Homo sapiens: one gene and its partners. The protein of the gene in region 1 interacts with the protein of each later gene in a pairwise test. Each region holds a gene or a part of one and is shown in the gene's direction. Other genes may lie near its edges.

The links.
Region 2: the proteins of ARRDC3 (region 1) and STAM2 interact in binary tests that used the Homo sapiens proteins (3 or more experiments, as listed by UniProt).
Region 3: the proteins of ARRDC3 (region 1) and ZRANB1 interact in binary tests that used the Homo sapiens proteins (3 or more experiments, as listed by UniProt).
Region 4: the proteins of ARRDC3 (region 1) and RAD18 interact in binary tests that used the Homo sapiens proteins (3 or more experiments, as listed by UniProt).

The regions. Positions count from the first base shown.
Region 1 is NC_000005.10:91,379,969-91,387,667, reverse strand, and holds the start of ARRDC3 (arrestin domain-containing protein 3), read left to right. Parts: upstream 1-4,350; 5' UTR 4,351-4,575; coding exon 4,576-4,855; intron 4,856-6,743; exon of another isoform or gene 6,744-7,321; intron 7,322-7,570; exon of another isoform or gene 7,571-7,699. UniProt on the Homo sapiens protein: Adapter protein that plays a role in regulating cell-surface expression of adrenergic receptors and probably also other G protein-coupled receptors.
Region 2 is NC_000002.12:152,165,674-152,173,354, reverse strand, and holds part of STAM2 (signal transducing adapter molecule 2), read left to right. Parts: intron 1-7,681.
Region 3 is NC_000010.11:124,937,601-124,945,588, forward strand, and holds the start of ZRANB1 (ubiquitin thioesterase ZRANB1), read left to right. Parts: upstream 1-4,522; 5' UTR 4,523-4,856; coding exon of another isoform or gene 4,857-4,893; coding exon 4,894-5,707; intron 5,708-7,988. UniProt on the Homo sapiens protein: Ubiquitin thioesterase, which specifically hydrolyzes 'Lys-29'-linked and 'Lys-33'-linked diubiquitin. Also cleaves 'Lys-63'-linked chains, but with 40-fold less efficiency compared to 'Lys-29'-linked ones.
Region 4 is NC_000003.12:8,876,097-8,883,675, reverse strand, and holds the end of RAD18 (E3 ubiquitin-protein ligase RAD18), read left to right. Parts: intron 1-2,216; coding exon 2,217-2,319; 3' UTR 2,320-6,601; downstream 6,602-7,579. UniProt on the Homo sapiens protein: E3 ubiquitin-protein ligase involved in postreplication repair of UV-damaged DNA. Postreplication repair functions in gap-filling of a daughter strand on replication of damaged DNA.

The DNA.
Region 1 (7,699 bases):
AGTGATCCTTCTACCTCAGCTTCCTGAATAGCTGGGACTAGAGGCACATGCCACCACACCTGGCTAATTTTTGTATTTTTTGTAGAGACAGGGTCTTGCTATGTTGCCCAGACTGGTCTCAAACCACTGGACTCAAGCAATCCTCCCACCTTAGCCTCTCAAGTTCTGGGATTACAGGCATGAGCTACCACACTCAGCCAGAAAATATTTTATTACAGCAAATAAAATTTTACCCTCATTATATAAAGTTGTGCATAGTCAAAAGTCAAAATTTATAAAGTAGTTCAGAAAAGAAATTTAGCATTCCTAATTCTTTCTGTAGACCAGATGCCATTTGAGCTTAGATGAATAAACTTTACCAACTCATCTTCTACATGATAATATGCACTGCCATAGCTTCACTGGCAATGCTCTTCTTTAGTTGTACATCTGGATGGAAATACACCAAAATGTTAACAGTGGTGTCTCTGAATGGACGGACAGTAGAATTATGGGTGATTTTCTTTTAATCAAGAAATAAAATATAACAGATTAAATGGTGTTCACATAACACAAATTATACTATTTATTAATGAAGGATATCAGAATCCAAATTTGATAGTGAGTTTCATCACAAAATCCATAACATATTTAAAAGTCTATTAAGTATGAAGAACATAACAAACATAATATGCGTTATGTTTGTAATAGCTCTCAAAGCTAAAAAACAAATACTACTCATTTTGCTAATAATACAGCAAGTCTTCTGTCCAGTCTGCATGCCAAATTTGCTGCACTGTGACGATATTAAAGAGTTAAGTCAGAGTTACAAAATCTTGAAATACAGAATTAAGACCAAAGGAAAAAAATCCCCCTTAGTCCCATAGCACTCGAGCCTATCAGCTGCTAGTTAAAATAGATTAAGCATAGATTTCATATTTTTCTTTATGAAACAGATTCTGACTACTGGTAGGTTTTTTTTTTTTTCAACCAAACACCAAAACTTCCAGTTGAGATGGCTTCCTTTTTTTTTAAAAATAAAAATATTGAGCATGTTGATATAATATGCAAAAAACTCCAAACTTGGCAGTAATCTTAACATATCTCCTCAATATCATACAACTTGACAGCAATGATCATTTATCAGTCTTTGATAGAGTTCTTGAGATTGAGTTCAAACTTTAATATATTAAGGTGAAAGAGCCATTTGACTCAAAAGCTAATATAAAAAGAGATTCCTACTTAAGCTCTGAAGAAGCAATGAAAGGGGAAGGGAAGCTAGTTATTCAGTCTAGTTGGAATTTTACTCAGTAGTGCCAACTGCATCTAGTGGAGGGATTAGAAAAAAGCAAAGGAGATAACATAGTAGTGGGATGTTATTCTGGGCACCAAAAGCACATGTAACTGCATACTGGCAACAGTGAGACAAGCTAACAAAGGGGACAGAAGATGTACTTGACAGGATTATAGAGAGTTAGCAGATGAGTAGGAGGAGATGGCATATGAGACGTAGGCTGGGGAGAAGTAGGAAAGAGCCTTGATGGTAAAGACGAATAGTTTAAATATAATACAAAATACAATAATGGCCCAGTGAAGCAAGCTGAGAAGCCCAAGATAATGTCTACAGTACAGCATTTCAAGCTGTCTAAGGAGTAGCTATTTAGACAAAAAATCTGAAAGGGGGAAGTTATGAAAGCGACAAGAGAAAACATTCAAAATTTGGTCCAAGCGTTTTTGTTTTTGTTTTTGTTTTTAAGAATTGAAAAGATAAAGCGAGACCAGGCGCAAGCGGCTCATGTCTATAGTCCCAGCACTTTGGGAGGCCAAGGCGGGTGGATCTCTTGAGGCTAGGAGTTCAAGACCAGCCTGGCCAACATGGTGAAACCCTGTCTCTACTAAAAATACAAAAAGTAGCCAGAGGTGGTGGTGCGTGCCTGTAATCCCAGCTGCTCCGGAGGCTAAGGCAGGAGAATCGCCTGAACCCGGGAGGCAGAGGCCGCAGAGAGCCTAGATTGTGCCACTGCACTCCAGCCTGGGCAACAGAGTGAGACTCCATCTCAAAAAATAAAAATATAATGAAAATGGCAGCTGGTAAGAATTTCTTGGAAATTTGCCAGTTACCTAAGTATTTAAGAAGACACAGTAAAAAGAAAATTTTAAAAATAGCAAAATAAATAATAAAGACAACTATTCAAAAGATCCTGAAAGCTTCAAACACAAAGAATAATGTACTACACAGTGACAGGAATGAAACATTTAATATTTTAAAACAATTTTCCAAACTACAAATAAATTTCTTAGACTTCTTTTTTATTAAATGCAATTCTGGTGTATTTATATAGCTAATTCTTATTTTTTCTGAAATGAGTTATATTCTAATTAAATAAATTTTACTAAAAAAATCCGAATTCAGCTGTTCACTAACCCTTAATAATTTTTAACATAAATGTAGACACAAATGTGCAATGAATTTATGTATTCATTATGGACTACACTTTTAAATCCATTCCTTGCTCAGTGGTTTTCGAATGCTTATTAAATATCATTGACCTTATGCTGAGGAAAAGCTGTCATTCTAGGAAATTCACCACTTCTACCACTAGGTGGAGAAAAAACACAAGTAGTATCTGTAATCAAAGCTAGTACAAGGCCCCAGGTACTTTACCTAGAATTTCCACCAGGTGTCAACCAAGAGGTAGGGAAAAGATAAGACTGTTTTTCCCACTTAAATATGCAAATTTATAATTTTATGCATAGCGATCTAAACTCTGAAATAAATGGCCTGCTCATTAATTGTCTAGTTTGCATATTTATACTCTTTATATATTGCTGTTGAGTCCAAGATATTGCCTTGTCAACTAAAATCCAACCCCCAAAAGCTTAGTTTCTTTTGAAATAAAACAGCAAGACCAATAAGTTTAGTTTATTGTGACTCATAGGCTCAACCTATCCATATACACTACGCAAAAGAATCTAAAACGTTTAGACACGGACAGCCAAAAATCTTCCAAGGTATTTTTGGTCATACATATATATATAGAGAGAGCACCAGATTCATATTTTTTCTTTCTACATTTCTCTTGTAAGGCAGTTCTGTTGATTGCCAGTAATCTAGATGAGTTTATGCTGTTATGCTCTGAATCCCAGTGTGATGTGACGAAAGCACTGCTATTTTTTACCAAACATTCACAATAAAAAGAGAAATGTACCTATATTTAAGATGTATCATGAGAATTACTACGTTAAATGGTCCAAGGCTCTCGGCCGAAAATTAAAGCTTCACACAGTTAAATCCCTATTTATATACCAAATCATGCTTTTTAAAAACAATTTTATGCGCTTCACTAATTTCTAACAAAGATTTTCCGATTCTGTTGCAAACAATATGTCAGCTAAACCACTATGTCATATGCCTTTTATAAGGTAGTACTTTTTTAGGCCGAACTCTATTCTTATTCCTCTGGACACAGGAGTTGTAATCATGTCTTACTCTGCAAATCTAGCCGTAGGTGGTGTCTTAAAAGGACTTTTTCTTCCTTCGAGGAAGTGATCAAGCTTCCCCCAGCCCCCACCCGTGTCATCCTGGAAACAACTTGGTTGTTTTTCGGTGCTAATTAAGCAATGTAGGAGAAAGAAGTTGAGGAGACAGCAAAGCCTATTGATTACATTGTACTTGCTTCTCTACCTCGCTCTTCAAAGGATTAAGGTTCCTTTGACCTCGACTGAGTTCATTTCCAACCTGCCTACAAAGTACTGGTTTAAAAAAAAAAAATCCAAGCAAAGTATGCTCTTGTCTATGAACAATATTTCTTGTCCGGTTTTATTACGTTTTCTTTGGAAATTCGTTAGATTATGCTCAACAATCGGCCGCTTGCCCAACCGGTTTCTCCCTTCCCCCATCTCTCTTCACACATCACTTTTTCCTCCTCCCATCCAGGCAGTTGGTAAAACGCTGCAGTGCCGGTAACGCACGCTTCGGGCTGGTCGCTGCAGTTTATCCTAACTTGGCTTTGCAAACTCCCCACCCAGCCCTTGTACCCTCGCACCCCACTCTGCCATTATCTTTCTAGTAGAGTGCGCTCGGTAACGGGCTCCAGATAGCACGTCGAGGGTATACGGTAGCCTGCCTACCAATAGGAGCCCACAATGAAGAGAAGTCAGGTTCAGCCGGCCAGCAGCTCCAGTATCTCCTTCCCCTAGCTCTACACCTACTGTACCCGGGAGCGAGCGGGCAAGGGAGCGAGCGCGGCGCGGCGCGGCGCGGGAGGGGGCGCGCAGGGAGGGCGGACAGCAGCCGCGGCCTGCGCCTGCGCACTGGGGTTGTTTTTCACAAAGCTGCTCTTAAAGTGAGCTGGCAGCTTTTAGCCGCCCGTCTTTGTAAGGAGACCACTGAGACGAGCGGGAGCGCGGAGCAGCAGCCTCTGCTGCCCTGACTTTTTAAGAAATCTCAATGAACTATTTGTAGAGAATCACTGATCCGGCCTGCAAGCATTTTGCACGGCAAAAATATCGATCAGTGTTAAGTGAAGATCACATTTTATATGCGATCTTGACTTTTTTGTCTTACATTATATTTTTATAGATTTTGTTATAAACATGGTGCTGGGAAAGGTGAAGAGTTTGACAATAAGCTTTGACTGTCTTAATGACAGCAATGTCCCTGTGTATTCTAGTGGGGATACCGTCTCAGGAAGGGTAAATTTAGAAGTTACTGGGGAAATCAGAGTAAAATCTCTTAAAATTCATGCAAGAGGACATGCGAAAGTACGCTGGACTGAATCTAGAAACGCCGGCTCCAATACTGCCTATACACAGAATTACACTGAAGAAGTAGAGTATTTCAACCATAAAGACATCTTAATTGGGCACGAAAGAGGTAAGTTTTTGTTATTCATAAGTCATTGGACTCATTTTCTTTGGAAACGTACCTTTTCAGTTTTCTGAATTAACGTGATTCTACTCCTAGCATAACTAAGCAGTTTGAGAAAGGTTAGCAAAGTTGGAAGGTTTGGATTCTCCTTGACGTTCATCGTGTGTTAAGCCGTAATGCATGCAGGCATCTGCAAAGTGACTGCAAACTACACTTATTCAGCTACCTCTGTACCCGGCTCGGTCTGTGCCACACGCACTTGTAGTCCATTTGCACCTTACTTATAAATTCTGTTTGAATCCAATTCAGTCGTTTTACTAATATATTTTCAAATGAATTGGTAAAAGCTGCAGTCTTAGATTTTTGCCCTTTTACTTGCAACCTAAGATGTAAAAACTGAACTTCGATCAAGAAATGTAATAACATTTTTAAGAGACTTAATGGGTGTGTTTCATTTTTAATATTGGAATGCAAAAGACTTTAAATAATTGATGACTGTTCTTTCATAAAAGATTTCTGTGGCTTATTTTGACATATGGTATCAACACCCCACGTGTTTTTTCTCTATTCTTTACCATTCCTTTAAAAATTTACACCCAGCATTCCTTATTTTAAAGGAATGACTATCTGTCATTATGATAGGTATCGAGTCAGGTTTAGAAGCCATTTAGGATCAGTAATTTTCTTTTCCGAGCATCATGTCTAACTTTGGAACGTGCATTCAATGAAACCCATGCCAGTCAAATGGAATTGAAAAGTATAGGGCACACTGGATTTGATTTTTGGTTAGAAGAGAGAGATAAAGGGTTGTCAAAAGGAGAAGGAGTCCTGAGATTTCCAATCTATTGTTTAAATGGTTACATTGTGGAAATATAGGAGACTCTAGGCTTGTTTTTCTAAGTTTCCACCCTTTGTTAGAAGCGGTTCAATCCTGTTTCGGACCAGTTCTGGGGGGTGGTGAGGAGGGGCGCTTGTTCTGCTCTCAGCAGATTGGTTACACGCGTCAGGTGGTGGCGATGACTTAATTCCTAGCCCAAGAAGAATATAATGTTAAAACTGGTTATGTAATTTTTGTGCCTCTCCTTTTTAATGCAGTATTTAGTTCAGATGTTGGCGATTTTTCAGAAAAAAAATTAGAGACATATTTTACCTTATTTTTTATATTAAAAACGTACATCCTGGAGAAGTGCTGATGACTAAGGCAAGTGAGAAATGAAGGATGCTTTGAGGGACAGTATTAATGCATTATTTTTGAAACTATTAAGGTGAACTCAGTTCTTTAGCAGGATTTTCGTAGTTAGATACAGGTACTTTGCATCCTGAAATAACTAATTAATCTCTCCAAGTGTTAACACTGATAGGAGATGCAAATGCCTAATGACAGCCTTGGTATTTGTTGAAAAGCAGATAGATGACTTTGTGTTTGTACCTTTCTGAATATTGCAGCCTTTTATGAAACGGATGAAAGAAAACAGATTTTTCCTCAAGGGGTTAAGACTTGCAGTGGGGAAAAGTAGAACAACGAGATGTGAGGACAAATATAATTTCATTAGTTGCACCATGATTTCGTGGTAAAGAAAACTAAATGCCCTGCACCCCCAACAAAATGCCCCCCAAACCCTGCAACGCGTAGACGAGCTCAGTCTGGAATAGTTTCAATGACTTGAAACTGGGAGCTCTCAAACTAGCCTGGTAACTGAGACCCCGCCCCGGGCGCCCGGGATAGGCGGAGCCAGGTTTGTTAGCCTGTTGCTAAGGCGATGGCAGGCGCTGATTGGATTGGGCGCGGGCGGGTGGGGAGAGTGAGCTCGCGCCGCGGCTGGGGCGAGGCTAGGAAACCGGCGTGCGCCGGTAAAGGTTCCTCCAGAGCGACCCCCACCCAGCCCGTACTCACGTTTGTTCCCGGGCTTCTGGGGGCGCCCAGCCCGTGTCAACATCATGTTCTGTCGCCCCTCTTTTGGGCCTCCTAAGGGCCATCGAAAGGAAACGACTTCAGGCTTTAACTGAGTAGAGGGCAGACGCTCCTGCCGGCCTTACAGGTGCTGGATGGCCATGGACCCAACTTTAGCAGAAAATCCTTTTCAGATGGAAGTTGGATGGGAAGGGTTGGCAGGACCCCCGTTAGCTATCTTCCGAGTGGGAGGTGTCAGGGGACTCCTGTGAACGCTTGTTTTCCCCTTAGCTGAAACAAAGCTTGTTCCCCGACCTCTCCAGTCGCCACACTGTCTACCTTGAGTTGACCTGAGGGGACAGAGCAAAGGCTGGCCCGAGGAAGAAGGAAAGTGATTCCAATATCGAAATGTTGGGGGAGGGGGGGGCTTCGACGGGTATCCTCTGCCCCCTCCCCCATCGTTTTCCGAAGCCTTCGGGCCCCCGCCTCCCCTTCGCCACCCCAATATCCCTTGCCGAAACTAAAGGTGTCAGAGTGGCCCGAGCCAGATGGAACCGGTCGCCGGCTGGGGCGTGTAAAGCGGAAGCGCCGCGGCTCGCTCGCCCCGCCCCCCGGCCAGCAGGCTAGGTTGCGCGGGCACGGGCGCGAGCGCCGCGCGACGTATGCCGTATGTATAGCGGGGCGCGCGGGCGGCAGCGGCGGCGGCGGCGGCGCGCGGGCAGGCCGGCTGGGATCTGCTCGCGCCGGTTTAGGCCGGTCCTCTCCTGCTCCGGTCTAGTTCTTGATTGACAGCCCGGCACTTGTTTACCACGGCGCGGCCGCCGCCGCTCGCTTCAATGAGACTGCTGAGCTGGCACAAAAAGGGAGCGAAGAGGGAAGAAAGGGAAAGGAAGGCGAACTTCGGGCGCCTTCGAGGGGAGCGAATTTAAATGGCCCCCAGCTCATCAGCTAGTTTTTGG
Region 2 (7,681 bases), on another chromosome or scaffold:
TACGCCCACAGACACACACGCATACACAAAGCAAGTCATTATTTGACTTGAGATGTCTACAGGAAATGTTACTTTACATTGTCATTGTCTTTTTCACTTGTTCTCTTTGATTCAGTCAGATTTTTGTTACCCTTTTTTTTTTTTGGTCATTCCTTTGTTCACTCTTCATTCAGCAGGCATACATTGAATAATTACTGTGTGTCAAGCATTGTGTTAATCTATGGACACAAAATGAGTAAATAGACTGTGAGTTCCTGCCTTCAAGGAACTCTCAATCTAATGGAGGAAACAGAGAGACATAAGACCTGTAATTTAGTACGATAAGTATAGTGCTACAAATATACAAGAAGCTTTAATCCTCTTTTATTTAAAATAGTCATAGTCCCTGAAGAAAAGACAAGGACCTTCAGATAGGAGCTTTCTCTGTAAAGGTGTTGACACTATCCTCTCCTTCCCACCTTTTCTTTTTTCTTTTTCTTTTTTTTTTTTTTTGAGACGAATCTGTCTCTCAGGCTGGAATGAAGTGGCCTGATCTTGGCTTACTGCAACCCCGCCTCCCGGGTTCAAGTGATTTTCCTGCCTCAGCCTCCCGAGTAGCTAGGACTACAGGTGCGCACCACCACACCTGGCTAATTTTTTGTATTTTTAATAGAGATGGAGGTTTCACCATGTTGGCCAGGCTGGTCTTGAACTCCTGCCCTCAAGTGATCTGCCCGCCTCGGCCTCCCAAAGTGTTGAGATTACAGGCGTGAGCCACTGTGCCCAGCCTCCTCCCCCCCTTCTCTGATAGCACTTTCCCAACAGGAAGTAACCACCTTTTGCTAATGTATGATATGGTCATTTTATGATTAAAGGCCTTTAAAGATTAATCTCTTTTGGTAGGTGAAGAGTCTTGCAGGAGGGTGAGCAGTCTTTCTGACAGTCATATGAGGAAGGAATCCTTTTCTCAGGGGCTGAGAAAAGGATGGGTCAAGATGTCTTAGGAAGGCACTCATGAATTGATGATGATATGTGACTTGTCAAATGGAAGCAGGCCAAAGGCTAGGAAGTAGGGAACTCTGGCAAATTCCTGTCTTTTCTTGGCATCAGAACCTACAAGCCCTGAAGGATATACTAGATTTGGTAGTGTTAGAACTCTTTAAACATTTTATCTAGATTCATTTTTTTGTTTTGTTTAATAAGATTTCTTTGATGTGTTCTGAGGGGAAAAAAGAAAATATCCTTAGGTCCCACCTCTTCTCCCCAGCTGGGCCTCAAGTGTTAGAGGGGTACAGGGATCTTGAGGTAGAGCCTGGTTGGAGTAGCCATTCTTGTAGAATTCCAAGGGGAAAGTGAAACATGGGGGACGGGGCCACAGTGGTTAGTGTTAACAGAGAAGATGTCATTTCCTTATTCATTGATTTCCAAGTCATGACTTGTCTGTTCTAAGCCTTAACTCCGGTTCTTGTTTGCATATCTTTTTTCCCTTTACTCAAGCCAGGCAATCTTTCTTGCCAGTTTTCTGCCTCTGTGCTATTTACCATTCATTGCTAAATGTTTGCTCTTTTCAACCTTGGTATTTCCTTTAAAGATACGCTTGTGTCCCACAAAGCTGAGCTCAAATTCTACCTCTACAAAACTCTGTGGACGCAGTGGTTTGAATTGTTAGCTTTTAAGAGAATACATTTCCAAGTGACATTTTAATGTGTGTATTGCTGTGTTTCTGACTTTTGCTGTGTTAGAAGAAGTTGACCAGGAAGTAGCTTGGGACTTTCTCCAGTGAAATGCAGTCATGCAGTCCTTTTCTCCAGTGAAATTTTATAAGAAATCCCAATATAAAAATAGATATTGATAGCATAAGAATAATATAAATTCATAACATACACACAAATTTATAACATTTACTTAACTAGGCCACTCTTTGTACAATAAGTTAAAATCTTTGTAAAAGTAAAAATTTTTTTAAAAAGTTTTTTGGTTTTGAATAAGAATAGTAGACTTAACAGCCAGTTTTTTTTCTAATATATTTTGTAGCTTTTTAAACTATGAAATATTTTCAGCATAAAATAGAAAATATGAACTCCCATTCCTGCCAGGCAATTATGTCAAGTGCTAATATTTTGATATACTTGATTCTTTTTTTTTAAGAAAGGAACATTCAAGATGCAGTGAAATACTTTAGTATTTTTAGCAGCTACCTGATCCCATTCTTCCTCCTTTCTCCGAGTTAAACACTCTATAAATAGATAGAAATTCTCTTTAATAGTATAATACTACACTTACAAATATACTATATATTGTTTGGATGTTTTTAAACTTCTTAAAAATGGTGTCTTTTTGTCATTCTGCAACTTTTGTCATCCAGCATTTCTTCTTTTTTGAGACGGAGTCTTGCTCTGTCGCCCAGGCTGGAGTGCAGTGGTGTAATCTCAGCTCACTGCAACCTCTGCTTCCCAGGTTCAAGCAATTCTTGTGCCTCAGCCTCCCGAGTAGCTGGGGTTACAGGTGCGCACCACCATGCTCGGCTAATTTTGCATTTTTTAGCAGAGATGGGATTTCGCCATGTTGGCCATGCCAGTTTCGAACTCCTGACCTTAGGTGATCTGCCTGCCTTGGCCTCCCAAAGTGCTGGGATTACAGGCGTGAGCCACCGTGCCTGGCCCATTCAGCATTTCTTCGTGAGAGTTATTCATGTTGATGTTTGTAGCTCTAGGTTATAAATTTTAATGGCTGCGTGATACTATACTACTATATGAATATGCATTATCTGTTGTCCTATTGACGAACATGACTTTGTTTTCAATTTCTTGCACCTACAGACAGCTCTGTATTGAAAGTTTTTATCTATGTTTTCTTGTGTTTATGGGTGCAAGATTCTTTTTTTTTTTTTTTTGAGACGGAGTCTTGCCCTGTCACCCAGGCTGGAGTGCAGTGGCGCGATCTCAGCTCGCTGCAACCTCCATCTCCCAGGTTCAAATGATTTTCCTGCCTCAGCCTCCCAAGTAGCTGGGATTACAGACGCCTGCTACCATGCCCAGGTAATTTTTTTTTGTATTTTTAGTAGAGACGGGGTTTCACATGTTGGCCAGGCTGGTCTCGAACTCCTGACCTCGTGATCCGCCCGTCTTGGCCTCCCAAAGTGCTGGGATTACAGATATGAGCCACTGTGCCCAGTGGAGTGCAAAATTCTTAAAGGTTGTCGTCTTGAAGGGGAATTCTTCAGTAGAAGTGTAGCTCTTGGCCTGGTGTGGTGGCTCATGCCTGTAATCCCAGCACTTTGGGAGGCTGAGGTGGACAAATCTTCTGAGGTCAGGAGTTTGAGACCAGCCTGGCCAACATGATGAAACGTGTCTCTACTGAAAATACAAAACTTAGCTGAGTGTGGTGGTGAATGCCTGTCATCTCAGCTACTCGGGAGGCTGAGGTAGAAGAATCACTTGAACCTGGGAGGCGGAGATTGTGCCACTGCACTCCAGCTGGGGCAACAGAGTGAGACTCCATCTCAAAAAAAAAAAAAAAGTGTAGCTCTTGCAAAGTTGCCCTTCCAAGTGTTTGTTGATTTCCCTCCTGTCAGCAGTGAAATTCCTGTTGTTCCACATCCTCACTAATGCTGAGCATTGTCAGATTTTCTAATTTATGCCTATCTGATGAATATGAAGTAAGACATTGTTTTCATTTCATTTTCTATTTCTACTTCATTGCCAGTGAAGATGAGCATTTTTTCATATGTTTCTTCATCATTCTGTTTTCTTTTTCTATAAATTGCCTGCTCATTACTTTTATTATTCTGTTGGGTTACTTTTTAAAAATTGATGGCAGGGTGCAGTGACTCACACCTGCAATCCAAACACTTGGTGGATTGCTTGATCTCAGGAGTTCGAGATCAGTCAGGGCAACATGATGAAACCCCATCTCTACAAAAAATACAAAAATTAGCTGAGCATGGTGGCGCGCACCTGTAGTCCGAGCTACTCGGGAGATGGAGGTGGGAGGATGGCTTGAGCTAGGGAGGTTGAGGCTGCAGTGAGCCATGATTGCATCACTGCACTCCAGCCTGGGTGACAGAGCCAGATCCTGTCTCCCGAACAAAACAAAAAAACGAAACCAAAAACCAACACCAAAAAATAAAACAAAATTGATTTTTAGAGTTCCAGATACATTTCTTACTAATCTTTAGTTGGGTATGTATGTTACAAATCTGTATTCTAGTTCTGTTTGTTTCTGCTGTCTTTTATTGTAAAGAAAATGTGGGTTTTCACTTAGTGATATTTGTCATTCTCCCTTAATTTTATTTTTCTTAAGAAAGGCTTCAGGGCTGAGTGTGGTGGCTCACACCTGTAGTAAAGAAAAGAAACCCTTCTCCACCCTGAGGTTATACAGATATTTTCATATTTTCTTCTGCAAGTTTTACTAAACTTTTGATTTTCACATTTAGGTCTTTGATCCACCAGGAATTAATTTTTGTATAAGGTCTGCGGAGGAATTGAATTGGATAACCAGTTGACAATAGACAATAATCAATTGTCTAATCACTGTGGATTGAATTGTCTGTTTTTTCCCCACTGTTTTATAATTGTCTTAGCTATTTTGGGCATTTCAAATGGATTATATGACAGATTGGTTAAAATCATTATACAAGGGAATTTCTTGTAGGTTTTTAGGATGTAAGAGAAAAGACATTATAATTTTATTTTTGTTTCACATCAGCTGATATTGATGGTTTAAAATATATTTTTATTCCTTAATAACATTTAATGATAAGCTTATGTATAATTTGTAAGTAAGTCAAGAAGAGAATGATTTTCTGCCAGTGAATATACAACATAATACTATAGCAGTGTAGTTAGGTGGATGTGTCTCTAGCATGGCTTTTGTTTAAATAAAGGACCTCAGAGGTGTTGCGTGTAATAGGCCTTGTGGCTGGGCGCGGTGGCTCATGCCTATAATCCCAGCACTTTGGGAGGTCGAGGTGGGCGGATTACAAGGTCAGGAGTTCGAGACCAGCCTGACCAACATGGTGACACCCCATCTTTACTAAAAATACAAAAATTAGCCGGACATGTGGTGCATGCCTGTAGTCCCAGCTACTCGGGAGGCTGAGGCAGGAGAATCACTTGAACCCGGGAGGCAGAGGTTGCAGTGAGCCAAGATCGCGCCACTGCACTCCAGCCCGGACGACAGAGCGAGACTCCATCTCAAAAGAAAAAAAAAATAGGCCTTGTATATAAGTATGTAGGGTAGGATATCAAACTCTGGTTACTTGACAAGTGATGGTTCTAACCACCTATTACCCAGGTATCAAAATGAAACTTAAGGATATATCATTTCTTTATCTCTTGTTATTTTTTTCCTCCTTGGTTGTCTATTGTCCTTTAATCTGACCACTTTTCTTCTCCCCCTTCCTTGATTTTTCATTTTGTCTTAAGTTAAAAAGCTTTTATTTTATTTTATTTTTTCTTCTTTTTTGAGACACAGCCTCACTCAGTCGCCCAGGCTGAAGTGCAGTGGTACAATCTCAGCTCACTGCAGCCTCTGTCTCCTGGGTTCAAGCAATTCTCCTACCTCAGCCTCCTGAGTAGCTGGGATTACAGGCACCCACCACCATGCCTGGCTAATTTTTAATTATTTATTTATTTATTTTTTTCTAGAAATGAGGTTTCACCATGTTGTCCAGGCTGGTCTTGGACTCCTGACCTCAAGTGATTCACCTGCCTCGGCCTCCCAAAGTGCTGGGATTATAGGAGTGAGCCACCATGCCTGGCCTAAGTTACAAAGTCTTTAAAAGTGTTTTTGCTTACAGTCTTTTTCCTGTTATAAAAATATCAGCTAATTGGCAATATTTGTCCAACACCATGGGTGAGAAGGATATTAGTTCCTGAGGCATTTTGGTATTGTTGAAACATTCTTTTCCCTCATCCTTTGTTTTTTAGGATTAAGTTTCACATTGACTTATTGGCATCTGCTATCTTTTTTGGTGTAGTAAGTGTTGCTCCCAGCTTTTAGACTTCCTTTAGCGTTATTTTCTTAATGGGTCTGTGGCTGCTATGCTTAAAGGACAAGCACCTCTCTGTCCCTATAGCACCTTGTGGAACATTTACAGTTCTTCACCATGGAGACCTGTTATGGCGATCTCTGTTGCATTCAGGGAGGCCTTTCTTTAGTTTCCTCCAGTTAAGAAATGTTGAAAATGAAGTGTCTTGTGAAGTAGTTCCAGTTCTTACTGACTTTTAATGCAAGCTCAGAACTGTGTTTAATCTCATATTTAAAAAAAGCATGAAGGGAAATGATGAAGGATTTAAAAAATTTTATTATGTACAGTCTCCCTCATATTTAGTGTAATTTTTAAATGATAGCAGTTGGATGAAAAATCTGTTATTCAGTGAAATTGTTATTGTATCTGAAAACTCGCAAACTATTTTCTTGGTCGGTAAACGTACCCTTAGTAAGCACTTGCTTATTTTCATTTGCAATATGAGAATTGTAGTGACTCAGAATTTTACTTCTCATTTGTACTAAAAGTTTTTTTTATTCTTATCTGGAGCAGCAGCTTTTACTTTCATTTGTCATGGGATGAATTATCTTAACCTTCTCTTCTAAAAAAAGATCTGCTTAAAGAAATCTAGCATGTGCAGTGTTTTGGTTTGTCCCCAGCAGTACTAAGTCCTTGAGGTGGAGGGTTGAAGGGGAAGAACTTTTTTTTTTTCAAACATTAATACCTTATTAGGTTCTCTTAAGTTACCTGATAATGAATAAACCTTTATATTTAATGGAGAGATTGAACCTAAGAAGGTCATTGTGGCAGATATCTGGGAATGGCCATTGTCCCCTGAAAATTATTGACATTCTGAAGTGGCCACCTGCTTATAGGTGTTAAGAATAGGCTGTGTATATATGTATGTAGGGTAGGATATCAAACTCTGGTTACTTGACAACTATCAGTTCTAACCATCTATCACCCAGATATCAAAATAAAACTTAAGGATATATCATTTCTTTATCTCTTGTTATTTTTTTCCTCCTTGGTTGTTTTTTGTCTCTGAATCTGACCACTCCTCTTCTTCCCCTGCCTTGATTTTTCATTTTGTCATATTACTCCAGTTTTATGTCAGAAATTTGTCACTACATGATGATGTAGTCTTAAAATTTTTAGCTATTCTAGTGGGTATGTCATTGTGGGCTTTGTCGTTGTTGTTGTTGTTTTTGAGACAGAGCCTTGCTCTGCCCCCCAGCCTGGAATGCAGTGGCGTGATCTGGGCTCACTGCACCCTCCACCTCCCAGGTTCAATCTGGGACTACAGATGTGCACCACCATGCCTGGCTAGTTTTTGTATTTTCAGTAGAGACAGAGTTTCGCTGTGTTGGCCAGGCTGGTCTGCAACTCCTGGCCTTATGTAATCCGCCCGCCTTGACCTCCCGCAGTGCTGGAGTTACAGGCATAAGCCACTGTGCCCGGCCTTCATTGTAGTTTTAATGTGCATTTACTTGATAACTCTTGATTTTGGGCACGTTTAAATATATTTATTTGCTAAATGAATGTTCTCTTTTTCAAAGTACTACTTGTTTAAATATTTTGTCCATTTTTCTTTTCACTTAATTTTCACAACTCTTTTAAGCACGGCAGCTATTTTAATCTCCATTTGACAAATGAGAACATGGATTTGGGTTTGAGTCAGAATGGAGGTGAACTACTCCAAAGCTTATA
Region 3 (7,988 bases), on another chromosome or scaffold:
GTGTTTAGTAATGCTTCACAAATATTAAACATGACAGTATAAAAAATGTTCCATTATGTAAGTCCCTTTCCCCCGCCTGCTATTAGTACATATACCATATTTCTGCACTTTTATTATCTGAATTGGAAAGTATATAATTAAAAACAGTTACGAATTTAGTACTTGTCAATTTAGTAGTAGTAAATGGTTGATATATTTAGAGACATTATTCATTCTACAGGCAGAGCTTGATGCACAAATGGATTCCTGGTCTCCTTGGTCCACAGGATGGGAACTGTTGGTATTGCATTTGAACCAAGGAATATTTGTCTTAAGAGTAGCAGTTTTGTCCCGTTCTCCTTAAAGAAGGCCTAGATTATGTTGATTTTATTGTGGTTTTATTTTACCAATTAATTGAAGTTTGAGTCCTTGGATAGAATTTGCAAATCTGCTTTGCATGCAAAATTAAACTTGTAAACTAAATTTACTTGGGCGTATGAATATATTTAATACTTAAAGTGATATTTGGTAAGTTTTATTTCAAGGTAGAGTATTAACTTTTAGAGCTGGCTACTTTGGAAATAATTTTATGTACTTTTTGGAATGTTTTGACATCTGGAAAAAGTGTACTCTGTTAATTTCTTTGTAATACTGCAAAAAAACACATAGTTCAGTTGATGTTATCCTTACTGTTCAGTGCTGTTTACTAATTACCACAGGTAGAAATGGCTGTCTCAGATAATCTTCAATGAATTTTTTCTTTTCTTTTTTTTTTTTGAGACAAAGTCTCACTCTGAGTGCAATGGTGTGATCATGGCTCACTGCAGCCTCAAGTCCCCTGGGCTGAAGCGATCCTCCTGCCTCAGCCTCCTGAGTAGCTGGGACTACAGGCATGTGCCACCACCCTGGGCTAATTTTTGTATTTTTTGAAGAGATGTGGTTTTGCCATGTTGCCCAGGCTGGTCTCGAACTCTTGGATTCAAGCAATCCACCTACCTAGGCCTCCTGTGCTGGGATTACAGGCGTGAGCACCTAGCCACTCTTCAATGAATTTTACCTTGCAGTTACTAAACAACATTCCTGCAATGTTTCAAGTTCTCTCAGAGTGAACACTGTACATCATTACGTTTTTTTTTTTTTTTCCTTGAGACAGCCTTGCTCTGTCATCCCAGGCTGAAGCACAGTAGCACAATCATAACTCACTGTAGTCTTGAACTCCTGTACTCAAATGATACTCCTTCCTTGGCCTCCTGAGTAGCTGGGACTATAGGCACAGGCGACTGCACCTGGCTAATTAAAAAAAAGTTTTTTTTTTGGTCGGGCATAGTGGCTCGCGCCTGTAATGCCAGCTCTTTGGGACGCTGAGGCAGGTGGATCACTTGAGGCCAGGAGTTTGAGACCAGCCTGGCCAACACAGTGAAACTCCGTCTCTACTAAAAATAAAAAAATTGGCTGGGCATGGTGGGATGCGCCTGTGGTCCCAGCTACTCTGGAGGCTGAGGCAGGAGATTCACTTGAACCTGGGAGTGAAGGCTGCAGTGAGCCAAGATTGTGCCACTGCACTCCAGCTTGGGTGACAAAGTGAGACTGTCTCAACAACAACAAAAATCGTGTTTTTTTTTTTTTTTCCTTTTTTGTAGTGATGGAGTCTTGCTGTGTTGCCCAGGTTGGTCTTGAATCCTGGACTCAAGTGATCCTCCCACCTCATTCTCCCAAAGTGCTGGGATTAAAGACTTGAGCCACTGTGCTTATTATCTAATATAAGGCACATCTCAAAACTCTTGAGCTTGGTTTTGGTATTGCTTAGTTACCTGGATTTTCAGAGGTTGGTGGGCTAATTAGGCAGCTGTCTGTCCATTATTTTACCAGGCATTTATGACAGTGATTATTTTTTATGACAGTTTTTTGTTTGTTTTTTAAATCAGCCTGGACATTTAAATATATTGTGCCAGCATATTAGTTACATGAAGATTAGCTAAGATAACATAAGGTTACGGGCTGTTTAGTTGCACCTACAAACATAGTAAGACTTATCAAAACAAGTATGGATTTTGAATGTGAATATTTTAAAAGATATATTGAAATTACTTAGAGTAGCCCTGGATATATGTTCATTATGGCATTTATCTTGTTAATAAGTTTCTACATGCTCATTTTAATTTCCAGTAGCATGAGCAAGTAACTTATATTTCATTCCCGAGAAACTAAAAGAATCTGCCTAAAGAGTATGAAAATTGCCATTAAATCTGTATTGTCTACTTTCTGGATGGTTATATCATTATAGTTCTCTGCTCTTCCACACATTTTTGGGCTGCTATCAGTTTGTAAGTAATCATTATACAAACTAAATTTAAAAATTTAAACAAGATAATTTTATATTACTTGGATCAGGGAAAAAAATGCAGTTGCTGAAGGTGGTTTCATAGCTAAATATAAGCAATTATTTTGCTTTTTCTACTTTTTTGGATTTTATCATCTTTTCCCTTTTAGTAATAGAGTAATACAGGTAGGAATTAACTTAGCACTGCCAAATTAATAGTAATATTAGAACTGTGTACACAGCACAGGGTTAAGGTTATATAGAAAAATGTCTCATCCATGTTTAATTTGGCTGACCAGCCCAGTTGATTAGCCAATTTTATTGTTTTGTTAAATTAAAATTCTAAATATAGTTGTCCATTGTTAAAATAAGTGAGTAGGGTTAAAATAGAGAATTGATAAAAATAAAGCCTTAAAAATCTTTTAGCTAAAGTAGCAGGCTTCAAGTGAAATTCAGTTTTGGTCTCCTTTACAGGAATAGCTATTCAGTCAGACAGAACCACTTATCACGTTTTGCAGTATCTCCTGAGGAAGTCAGAATTCTGAGCCAGCATGAAGACGGAATCTTGTCTTTGATCTGATTTGCAAACCGTACTTTTATTCTAATCATGTGCAAGGTGGAGGTTATAGCGTGGGAACTAAAATCTTAGTAAGTGTGGTTTTTATTTTAGCTATTAAGTAGTATACTTTCTTATAGTGATTTTTTTTTCTTCTTAGCAGAGTTCACACTATAAATGGTGTATGGACTTGGCAGGCAGGAACATAATACAGTATACTTCAAAAGTGAAAGATTTAGGCCAGGCGTGGTGGTTCATGCCTGTAATCCTAGCACTTTGGGAGGTCGAGGTGGGTGGATCACGAGGTCAGGAGTTCATCAAGAGAAGCCCGGCCAAGATGCTGAAACCCTATCTCTACTAAAAATACAAAAATTAGCCGGGCATGGTGGCATGCACCTGTAATCTCGGCTACTTGGGAGGCTGAGGCAGGAGAATCGCTTGAACCTGGGAGGTGGAGGTTGCAGTGAGCTTAGATTGCACCACTCCACTGCATTCCAGCCTGGGCAAAACATAGCAAGACTCCATCTCAAAAAAACAAAAATGAAAACAACAACAACAAAAAAACAAACAAACAAAAGATTTAACCCTCTAGGTTCAGGAAAAATCCCTGAGAAAGAGAGAGCAAAGCTTCTATACTCTGCCTAGGATTTCTTTCTCTTTCCGGGTGAAAAATAGGTGTTGGGATGATACTGAGTTGATAAAAGTATTTAGGAAAAGTGGCCAGTGTCTAAATTCAAGCCATTAAAAAAAAAAAAATTAAATTTGTTATGTAAGTTGCTTCATTTATGAATTAGTTGCCATTAAATTATGAAGTCTTTCTTCATTATAGTGTAGTGTTAGCCCATTGTTGAATCCTAGAAATCTTTTAAGTAGTGTGAATATCTTTTAAATATGAATTGGATTTTTTGGGGGGCAGGGGATGGAGTCTCACTCTGTCACCCAGGCTAGAGTGCAGTGGTGCGATCTTAGCTCACTGCAACCTCTGCCTGCCGGGTTCAAGCAGTTCTCTGCCTCAGCCTCCTGAGTAGCTGGGATTACAGGCACCTACCACCATGCACGGCTAATTTTTGTATTTTTATAGAGACGGGGCTTTACCATCTTGGCCAGGCTGGTCTTGAACTCCTGACCTTGTGATCTACCCGCCTCAGCCTCCCAAAATGCTGGGATTATAGGCTTGAGCTACTGCCCCCGGCCATGAATTAGATTTTGAGTATATTTTAAATATTCAAAATTTAAAATATTTTAATTATGAACATTCACAATTATATTGGAATGATTATGCTACTGGTTATTTCAGTGACCTTCCACAGATTTAATTTTCCCCAGTACAGTCTTCTTTTTTTTACTCCAGATAGAACTAGATTTTGAGGCTACAGATTATCAAGGAACTACCTATTTCATAATGTTACTTTGTTAATTGTAGCCATTACTTCTCAACATGTTTCTTTACTACCTGTGCTAATTAAGAACAGTGGATAATTAGCATTTTAAGTTGCTTTTCTCCCTTAGCGAGAATGATAAAATAGACGTTGCTTGATCTTCTGAATTCATGAATCATAATCTGTGTTCATAATTTGAGAATGGTTATGTGTTTAAGCTATTTTTTAGTTTGTGTTGTTTCCTCTACCTTTGTCTCTTTAAACTATTGGTTACTTTTCTAAATTGATGTGATGGCCTCCCTGAAATTAAACATTTCTATTAGTGGCTTCCCGTTAATCTCATCCTTCTTAGATCAAACCTCGTTATATCTCCTGCCTATCTCTTTTGCATTCCAAAGTTCAGTTTTATTAAATCCCAGGGTCTAAGATTTTTTCTTTGAGAATTTATCTCCAGTGTTTCTATGGAAATTAAAAAAGAAAATTAGGATAATTCAATGTCGAAATGTTGCATGCATCTTTTGAGAAATTTATATTTTGTAGGTTGAAGGACTTGCTTTTTGGGCAGCGTATTTTTGGAGGTGGAATGTAGTTATTTTAATAACCATGTCCTAATTATTTATAGCTTCCTGCCTGACACAGCTCACTTCAAGAAGTGCACAATGTCAGAACGTGGAATTAAGTGGGCTTGTGAATATTGTACGTATGAAAACTGGCCATCTGCAATCAAGTGTACTATGTGTCGTGCCCAAAGACCTAGTGGAACAATTATTACAGAAGATCCATTTAAAAGTGGTTCAAGTGATGTTGGTAGAGATTGGGATCCTTCCAGCACCGAAGGAGGAAGTAGTCCTTTGATATGTCCAGACTCTAGTGCAAGACCAAGGGTGAAATCTTCGTATAGCATGGAAAATGCAAATAAGTGGTCATGCCACATGTGTACATATTTGAACTGGCCAAGAGCAATCAGATGTACCCAGTGCTTATCCCAACGTAGGACCAGGAGTCCTACAGAATCTCCTCAGTCCTCAGGATCTGGCTCAAGACCAGTTGCTTTTTCTGTTGATCCTTGTGAGGAATACAATGATAGAAATAAACTGAACACTAGGACACAGCACTGGACTTGCTCTGTTTGCACATATGAAAACTGGGCCAAGGCTAAAAGATGTGTTGTTTGTGATCATCCCAGACCTAATAACATTGAAGCAATAGAATTGGCAGAGACTGAAGAGGCTTCTTCAATAATAAATGAGCAAGACAGAGCTCGATGGAGGGGAAGTTGCAGTAGTGGTAATAGCCAAAGGAGATCACCTCCTGCTACGAAGCGGGACTCTGAAGTGAAAATGGATTTTCAGAGGATTGAATTGGCTGGTGCTGTGGGAAGCAAGGAGGAACTTGAAGTAGACTTTAAAAAACTAAAGCAAATTAAAAACAGGATGAAAAAGACTGATTGGCTCTTCCTCAATGCTTGTGTGGGTAAGTTTCTGTATTCTGCATTTTTTGCGTGGGATGGGAAAAGGTAGTAAAAATGATATGAAAAGAGCTGGGTGCGCTGACACACGTTTGTGGTCTTAGCCACTTGCTTGAAACCAGGAGTTTGAGGCTGTAGTATGCCATGATCGGTCTGTGAATAGCACTTGCACTCCAGCTTGGGTAACATAGTGAGACTGTGTCTCCACGCACATGCAAAAATGTGAGTGTGTGTGTGTGTGTGTATATATATATGCGCAAAGTCACTAGCATTTGATTCATTCAGCACGATAGCTGTACTTTCAAGTATGCATACATAAAAATTTGTGTATTTGTGATCTTGTCGTAACTTTGTACTAAATTGCCCACAATTAATTGTGTTCATGTCTCTCCATTACTGGGGGCAGTGGAAACGTTTAAGTTAAAGCAAAGTTTTTACACATCAGCAGTAAAATATATACCTGGACTTTAAAACTGCTACTCTGTTTATTGTAACAAGATGTAACTGAGGAACACCAGCTGCTGTTTCCAAGTATTTGTAAACAGTGTGAGCATCTTGTGATGATAGAAGCTTTAGTCAGATGTTAAAAATACCACAAAAATGTGTGACTCCAAGAAGTTGAACAAACATATTGACCTTGAAAATACTGGTGTTAATTTAACATGAATGTCATGTAGTAAATGTTTGCAAACTTTATGGAACTGATTACATGTAGCCAGCTGATTCCATACTTCAAGTTATGGTTCATATGTATTGTGACATTTTCCTCAGGAAATGCTGTTAAAGGACAGAGACATAGGAGAGCAGAGTTTTTCTTCAGTTCTTGACCTTGTGAGTTAATTGTGATGTAATTCACAAAAGCAGTGACTTGAGTCTTCAGTATTTTTTTTTTGAGTAGATTAGATGTTTGATTTTTATTAAATTATTTGGATGGGCTGCTTGCTTTGACATTTGGTCTTATGAGGGAAATTTTGAATGATTACTAAGTTTAAACTTTGTGTGGAACAATAGCTAAGCTTTAACTATACCTTAGCTGTATGTTTTCCCTCAGTACCAATTTCTTTTATTTATCCCTCTGGGTACAGCCCAAGAATATGGAAAGTTTAGGTGTATGAACCTGTGAGTCCTAGGAATTGATTTCCAAGAAATCGTGAGTTTTAAAATTAAATTATATATATCATTCCCCCCCCCCCCCCGCCCCAAGATGGGATCTCACTCTGTCACCCAGGCTAGAGGGCAGTGATGCAATCATGGCTCACTGCAGCCTCAACCTCCTGGGTTCAAGTGACCTGCCATCTCAGCCTCCCCAGTAGCTGGGACTCCCCATTAGCATGTACCACTATGCCCTGCTATTGTTTTAAATTATTATTTGTAAAGATGGGGGTCTACCTATGTTGCCCAGGATGGTCTTGAACTCCTGGGCTCAAGCGATTCTCCCACCTCAGCCTCCTAAAGTGTTGGGATTATAGGCATAATTTGCTGTGCCCAGCTGAAATCCTGAGTTTTCAATTTTAGCTTTGTTCTGGCAAAAAAGAATATCCCAGCAGATGAATCCTTCTGACCTCCAGACTTAGTAGGCACTTAGCAAGTCTTAGTTCTAGTTTCCTCCCATCCTGAGGATGAGGGGATGAAAACATACCGGGCTATCTTCTGTCTGTGTTGTCCCATTTTATTCCTCTGATTTTTCTGCTCCAAATTGAGGGGCAACATACAGTATGATTGTCAGTTAAAAAAATTTAAACAGGAGATACAAAAGGGTTTTGTTATTAGTTTCCTTAGAGATCAAATTGATTTAACATAAAAATTCACCGTTTTGCAAGTGAACAACTCATTTGGCATTTAGTGCATTCACATTGTGTAACCACTACCTCTGTGTTGTTCCAGAACATTTTCATCATCCCAAAAGGAAACTATGTACCCATTAAGCAGTTACTGCCCCCTACCCCTACCCGCTAACCCTTGATAACTGCCAGTCTGCTTTTGGTGTCTGTGGATTTACCTATTCTGGATATTCATATAAATGGAATCTTTACATATCTGTGAGCTTTTATGTTGGGTGTGATTGTCTTTTAATTGCTTGTATGCCTTTGGAACAGTCTTAAAATCATTTTTTTTTTTTTTTTTTTTTTTTTCAGGGAGTAGTGTACTATGAATACTTGGACTACAAGGTGGTGTTATAGTACATGTAGGTTTATAGATGAAAATGAACTAGACTTCATTGTGACGGTTCTTAACCTCACAGTGAAGGTCACTAAACCTCACTAAAGGTCATAGAATCCTTTAGGA
Region 4 (7,579 bases), on another chromosome or scaffold:
AGGAAGCGCTAAACTTTCACCTCTGGTTAACCATGAGGCTGTGTGCAAGCAGGAAGTAAAGGCTAAGGCAGAGTTGTCCACTGAGTGTTGAGTGAATGTTGATTGCATGCCCCAGCACAGACACAGAACCCACCAGCAAAGACTGGTTTTGCTGAGTTTCTGTATGATATTGGTTCCAGATGTCTAAGGAACTGTTCAATCATTAGTGGACTACAAAGCTAATCAAGCAGACACTTTTAGTTGCCATATACAACAAAGAATACATATTTATAGGATTGGTTTAGAAAAGTCACTAAACAATAATAGCAAACAGCAACAACAACAAATCCTGGAGAGATCTTGTTTGTTGGTTGTTTATTTTTGGTATTTCTCATGACTGGGGTTCTTTGACCAACTTTGATCTTGATTTGAAGTGTTTCAACGTTTTTAGAAAATCCACAGCCATATATATTTACATATTTATTATCCATAGTTCTTTCTCTCCTTTCTTCCAGGTATTACAGTTATACACATGTTATGCCATTTTTATTGTCCCACAGCTCTTGGCTGCTCTATTCTATGTGCACCCCCTCACATACTCCTTTTTCTCTTTGTATCTTAATCTGGTTTTTATTGACATACCTTCAAGTTCACTAAGTCTTTTTATCAACTTTGTGTATTGCACTTAAAGCCTATTGAAGGAATTTCCATCTCGAAATGGGTTTTTCCCTTGCTTCATTGTGTATCATACTTTTTGAATGCGGGCCATGCAGTGAAGGACCATAGGGACTGAGGTCGATAGTGTTTGTGCCTAGAAATGCACATCCTTCTACTGGGTCATTAGTGTGGGGAGTTGAGCTGGGTAATTCAGAGTTGACCTGGATTGGAGTTTCCTAGTGACTAATGTGACCTTCAGTGCATCCACTTCAAGTTACTCTAGCAGGTGGCTGCTTTGACTTCTGCTTAGTGTTGGGGCTGGATTGCCAGAGGGTTTTTCTCATTGATTTTGCTCCCATTTTCCTTTCAGCCATGCTTGCTTTCCTGCACCAAATAGGGGCATATCTTCACCATGTCTGTGTCTCTCCCTCAGCCATTTCCTGCTCCTGCTTATTGCTTGTTGCTAGGCTGATGGTGGGAAACAGCCGGGGTTCACTGTTATCTCAGTCTAGCCTGAGTCTTAGGTAGGCCCTGTGTGCCTGAGTCTCAGGGGTGGGCCTTTCTCAGCACTTCCACCTCCTCCCATGGTATCTGGCTACTTGACCAAACCTCTGCGTGGTGTCAGTGTAAGGTCATCAGCTGGAGATGATTTACTGCCCCTCCTGTAAGGTAGAGGTTTTAGTTTCTACCATTCCCCCTGCAGCAGTGAATCTTTGCCTGCGTTCCTGCAAATGAGGTCATATGCCTCCCCTTGAGGCAGACTGATTTCACCTCTGTTCCTTCCCCAGAGGCCATAGGTCTTTGCTAGAGCCCCAGGGGGAGTTTCCTGTGTTTCCCTCAGCAACTGAAAAGCTTATGCTTCATGGGAGAGAAGCATTCAGGAGAGCAGGCAGGACTTGACTTCTTCCTGTCCCCCGTAGCCACTGAAGTGGCCCCTCTCCATTCACCTGTCCTGCTCCCAGTCTTTCTTGTGAGCACCTGACGGAGGCTCGTGGAAAAGAGCTGGCAAGTGTGTGCAGACTCTCCTTGTGTCAGGGGCCTGCAATACTAGCCTGTATTTAAGAAATTAGGAAAATCTTAGCTGATTCTTCTTACCTGTTTGTATGGCAGCCACCTCGTTCTCCAACACTCTGCCAAAAGTGAGAGAAGTGTGGCCCATCTTTGGAGGGGCATATTTTTCTTTGGAATTTTACTTTCTTAGTTCCTTTAAAACCTCAGGTCTCTGAAGGATCAAACAGAGTTAAGATTTTGTTAGACTGTCTGGCTTTTTCTTGTTAGGATGGGAGCAGCTTTTTGTTTGCCGTTTTTTCCCAGCCCTCTACATGCTAAACAGAAGCATAAAACTCCTAAATTTTAATTCAGAAAAAGGGGTTCAGAGCTCATTTACTATCTGTGATCTTTGCTAACTCACTAATTCATAAAGTGGAAATACTAATAATAACAATTATGAATTCATCAACAGAATAGAGGATTATTTCGAGGTTTTAATGAAATAATATGTGTGAAAACACTTGTAAACTAGAAACTGCTGTACAATAATCATTACTTTCCAAGATGTCATTTCCTTTTTCTGTCTTCAGAAACGATCTTCAAGACACAGAAATAAGTCCAAGACAGAATCGCCGCACAAGAGCCGCTGAAAGTGCTGAGATTGAACCAAGAAACAAGCGTAATAGGAATTAATGTGGGCTTTTGCTGACTTTTCAAATGCATTGATTAGAATACCGTACTTTTGGTTGCCACAGATAGATTTTCTATTTATAAATGCCCAAGGAAAGATGCTAAATTCTAAATATTACGGTTAGCTGATATTCATTCTTTTCTGCTTTTCCAGAGGGGAAAAATGTTACAAAATATCCTTACTTGGTCAGTTGCCTCCTGCCTCTAAAACATCTCTCTCTAAAAATACTGACATTTCACACAGGTACCAGCTTTGCAGAGGAGGTAGACTCTTTGGCACTTTGGCACAGGGATTTGGTTTGGTTTGGTTTGGTTTGATAATTAAATTTCAGAATGTCCTTAGGCCATTCTCCTTCTCTTCCATGGAGAATCCAGCCTCACAAAAGGATTCTTTCAACTTCTTTATTGCAAGAAACAGTTGAGTTAAATGTTTGTTTTTGGAAAGGCGGGATGTCAGTTCACATCCTTGGTGTGTGTAAGTACCGATGCACGCCACCACCATGCCTGTGTTACAGCAGCTCCATGATGGTTGTTGCCCGAGGTTAATGTAGTTGTTTGTTAGACCTGTGTCTTACACATTTCTCAGAGTAGGATATTAGTATTATAATTTAAAGCTACGACAGTCACAAAGTCACAATAACTTAGAAACATTGCGCATATTCTTCTGAAATAGCACTTAAAAATGATTAGTGTCAGTATTTTTTCACTTGGGTCAATCAAATCTGTAACACTGAATCCAAGCTATTAAACAAAAAGTATGCAATGAATGAATTTTGTAAATGAATAGAGAGTATCAGTTTACAATAATGTTCTTAAAACAGTATCCTCTGGATAGTTGAGTATGGGTTAGAAATCATTGAAATGGATTGGTCAGAAATTGCTATCTGTGTAAAATGTCTACCAGTAGCCAGATGCTTCCAGAGTTCTTAATGCCTCTCTGGCATTTCAGAGCCAGCATCCCCCAACTCCCACCCCTCTGCCATCACCCAACCCAAACACATCAGCTTTCAAATGAGATGATAGTAAATGCGGCAATGTTAAGACAAGAAATTTATGATTTGCCAGATTCAACATTTATGACCTCCCCTTCCAAAGACTGTCTCCGTTGACCTTGTCTTTTTGGTATGCCTTGGGGTTTCTGATAATGTGTGGAGTCTCATTATGGCTGAGAGTTTAGTGTTTTCACAGTGAAGTGCAGACATTTGATTTCTTTATGAGTTCCCTGTGTTAGAAATGGCTATAGAAAAATTTGTCATAATAATTTCATTTGCATGAAATCCTGAGGGGTGCATTAAGGAAACTAAAAGCACCACTTACCAAATCTATCGGCAGAACTGATGTGAGGTAAGTGAGCATGTCAAACAAAATAGGAGCTCACATGGATATATTTATGTCACTGAGTTGTCAGAAATTATGTCAAAATGAAAACTGTTTGTTTCATGACAAATTATATAGTCTATAAATTAAACTGGAAGTAATTATTACTTTAATTGCAGCAAAAGGAGTTTGTGAGGGAGCGGTGAGACCCAAGATTGGGAAAGTAGGCACATGAGTTCATTCAGCAAATATTTGGTTATCTATGTCTGTCACTGTGCTGACACTGGGAATACAAAGGTGGCCAAAGATCATCTAGAACAATGGTTCCCAGTGGGGTGGGCAGAAAGATTTTGCCCCCCAGGAGACAGCTGGCAATGTGTGGAGACACTTTTGGAGGTGGAGGGTGGTGAGGGGTACTACCAGTATCAATGGGTGGAGGCCAGGGATGAGGCTAAACACCCAACCCTCATGGATTAGTTTGCCAGGGCTGCCGTCACAAGATACTGCAGACGGGGAAGCTTACACAACAGAAATGTGTATTCTCAGAATTCTGGAGGCTGGAAGTCCAAGATCAGTAGGGTTTCTTCTTCGGCCTCTCTCCTTGGCTTCCACTCATGGTGTCCTTGCATGGTCTTTTCTCTGTGTGCACATGACTGTGCAGGACTGGTGTCCCGATTTCTTGTAGGGACAGCAGTCATTGGATCAGGGCCCATGCGTATGGCCTCATTTTACTTCAGTTACCTCTTTTTTAGATAGAGGGCCCTATCTCTAAATACTGTCACATTCTGAGATACCGGCAGTTAAGACTTCCAACATATTTAGTGGTAGGGGTTAAGGGGCACGCTTTAGACTACAACACTCCACAGTAAAGAATTATCCAGTCTAACATGTCAGTTGTGCCAAGACTGAGAAACCTGTAATGTAAAGGAACTCCCAAGTCTACCTGAAAAGTAAGGTCTAAAGAGCATTTATTGAGCACTATCTGTTAGCACTTAGCATATGTTTAATATTCATACATTGAAAGAAATGTATGTTCATATCCATCTGACAAAGATTAAGGAACTTAGAGTAAGTAATAGATCCAAAATTGAAACTGATAAACTTCTGGTTCTAAAATTCACCTTTTAGTGAAAATACAGTTTCTCACCAAACTTACAGTAATTCAGAGTTATTAACTCTTTCTACCTCCTCACTCCCCTCAAAGTTATAACATCTCCCATCAACATCAGCTCAGAATGGCAGTGATGCTTATGGTTTGTGGGGGTGCAGGTGAGCTGCTGGATGCACTTTAGATGGCCTAGTATGCCAGGCCGTCCTTTCATCCTCTACTCTCGTCTTTCTTTTTCGACCTCATGTTGAGGATTACTGGTCTAGTTGAAAAAAGAATTCATACACATAAGACCATGTATATAATAGAGGGAGGTATGCCTTTAAAAACAAAATTACATGGTAAAGACTGATGTGTCAACAGGGATAGACAACATAGAGAAGGCTAGAACTGTTTCTGGAAAAAAACCCAAAAACAATGGATTTCAAACTTCTTAGCATCCGATAAAAGAAAGTAGCAATTATTCAAATGAGAAACACTTCTGTCTGTTATGTACATATTATGAAAGTATGAACATAAGAGGGAAAACCACAACCATTACATTTTTTACCATTTCAGTAATTTTTTTTTGGTTTTTAGTCTGTTTTTAGACATCCTTAAGAACAACTATCTGAGGCTGTAAACAAGTATTTACATTAACACCCATGATACTGACTTTATACTCCCTACCTGCATTGAGACCTTAAAGGGGGCATTTCTCCATTCCTTCTGTGTATTTCTGGGTATCCCCAGGTTCAGATATTCAGAATACAGATACAAGTCCATGCTTGCATATGTTGCTGCTCCCCCCGACAGACTTCTACCAGCATCTGCCCTCCTCACCGCTGCTCTGTCACGTGCACTGCGGCTGGCCCTGCTGGAAAGTCCTACCTTGCCTAGGACGCCATCCCCGATATAGCCCCAAGATGCAAACCTGCCAAGTGCTAGGGCAGCCCTGCCTTCCTGTCCATTTCAGTCTCTTGGCCTTGCTGTGTTCCAAGTGGAAATGGGAGTGTGCTTTCCTGGTTTGCTAGTGTACTATCACCCGGACCACAGCGTCCTGTGCAAAAATTTGCTTCCTCTCTCTTCCCCTTTCACTCTTTCTCTTTTCTCTTCCCCACCCCCTTTTTTTTCTCTTTCCCCTTACCTTTCTTTCCTTTCCACTCTTCCTGTCCTTCCTTCCTTCAACTATTAGGACTATATGTCAAGTAATGTGCAAAACAAAGACAGTTCCTGCCCTGATGGAGCTTGTAGATCAGAAGGGAAGATGAGCATTAAGTAATTATATAGATTAATGTACAACTGTGATGAGTGCAACAAAAGAGAGGTTCATGGCACTATCAAACATGCAATGGACGGATTTTGTTTTTGCCTATAAACTCTTGCCATAGAAAGCTTGAAAATCAGTCCAGGGGGACAGCATTAATCACCATGTTCTTTCCTTATCCCTGTCTTCCCCAAAATTCATGTGTTGAAACTTAACAAGAGGTGGGAACTTTAGGATGTGATTAAGTCGTGAGGGCACAGCTCTTATAGATGGGGTCACGGTCCTTCTAAAAGGGCTTGAGGGAGTGGTTTTGTTTCCTTCCATCCCTTCCGCCACATGAGGACACAGTCTTCGTTCCCTCTGGAGGACTCAGCAACAACACACCATCTTGGAAGCAGAGAGCAGTCCTCACCAGACACGGAATCTGCCAGTGCCTTGATCTTGGACTTACCAGCCTCCATACCTGTGAGAAATAAATTTCTATTGTCTATAAGTTACCCAGACTGTGGTATTTTCTTCTGGCAGCACAAATGGACACCCAGAAACTGATGCATGCATCTTCTGACTCCTTTGATTCCAAAATACAAAATATTAGAATAAAGTTATGGAAGTCAGCTTATGCTAGTAAGTGCCTGTGTGTCTGCCAACTTCCCAATAGTATCAAGAGAAGCTGGACAAGTCAGAATTTCATATCACCTATCCAGGATCACCTCCATAAACACACAAACACACACACACACACTCACACACACACACATACACATACACACACACAGTGCTTTCATTTGTCACAGAAAGATTCCACAGTGCATTAACAATACTATTTAATGATTGTATAACAATCCATCTGGATCGTGTGCCATTTTGCACAGACATTCTACGCTTGGACACTTACGTTACTTCCAGCTTTTTCCAATTACAAATAATTTAGAAGGCATCATGGTGCATATAGTTTTTTCCATATATATGATTACTTCCTTAGATTACATTCTCGGAAATGGAATTATTGGGACCTTAGCTTTTAATAAAATATATGGCCAGGTTTTCAAAACGGGACACCAAAGTATTCTAAAGGAATTTTTTTCTCTGGGTCTTAATGGGTTTTAAGAATCACATTGGAGTTCATCAGTGTCAATGTCACAGCAAATGCAAGGCTTTCATTTCTGTTAACTATCAAAGCTGAGAGTCCAAAATTGAAAGGGACTAAAACAAAACAATTCTATGGAGTTACAAGCAAACAAAGACCAACAATACTTTTCATGTTCTAATGTAATAGAAAGTTAGATAGGTTCTAATTATCCCTAGTTTCAAATTAGAGATATACAATAGGTTGCGTATCCTTAATTTGAAAATCTGAAATTGGAAATACTCTGAAATTGGAAACTTTTTGAGTGCTGATATGACACTCAAACCCTCACTGGAGCATTTTGGATTTCAGATTTTTTGGATTAGGGATGCTTAACTGGTAAGTATGATGCAAATATTCCAAAATGCAAAATCTGAAACACTTCTGGTCCCAAGCATTTTAGATAAGGGATACTCAACTTGTATTTAAGATCTCTGAGGAGAATGGCTAAGAAATACTTTTATAG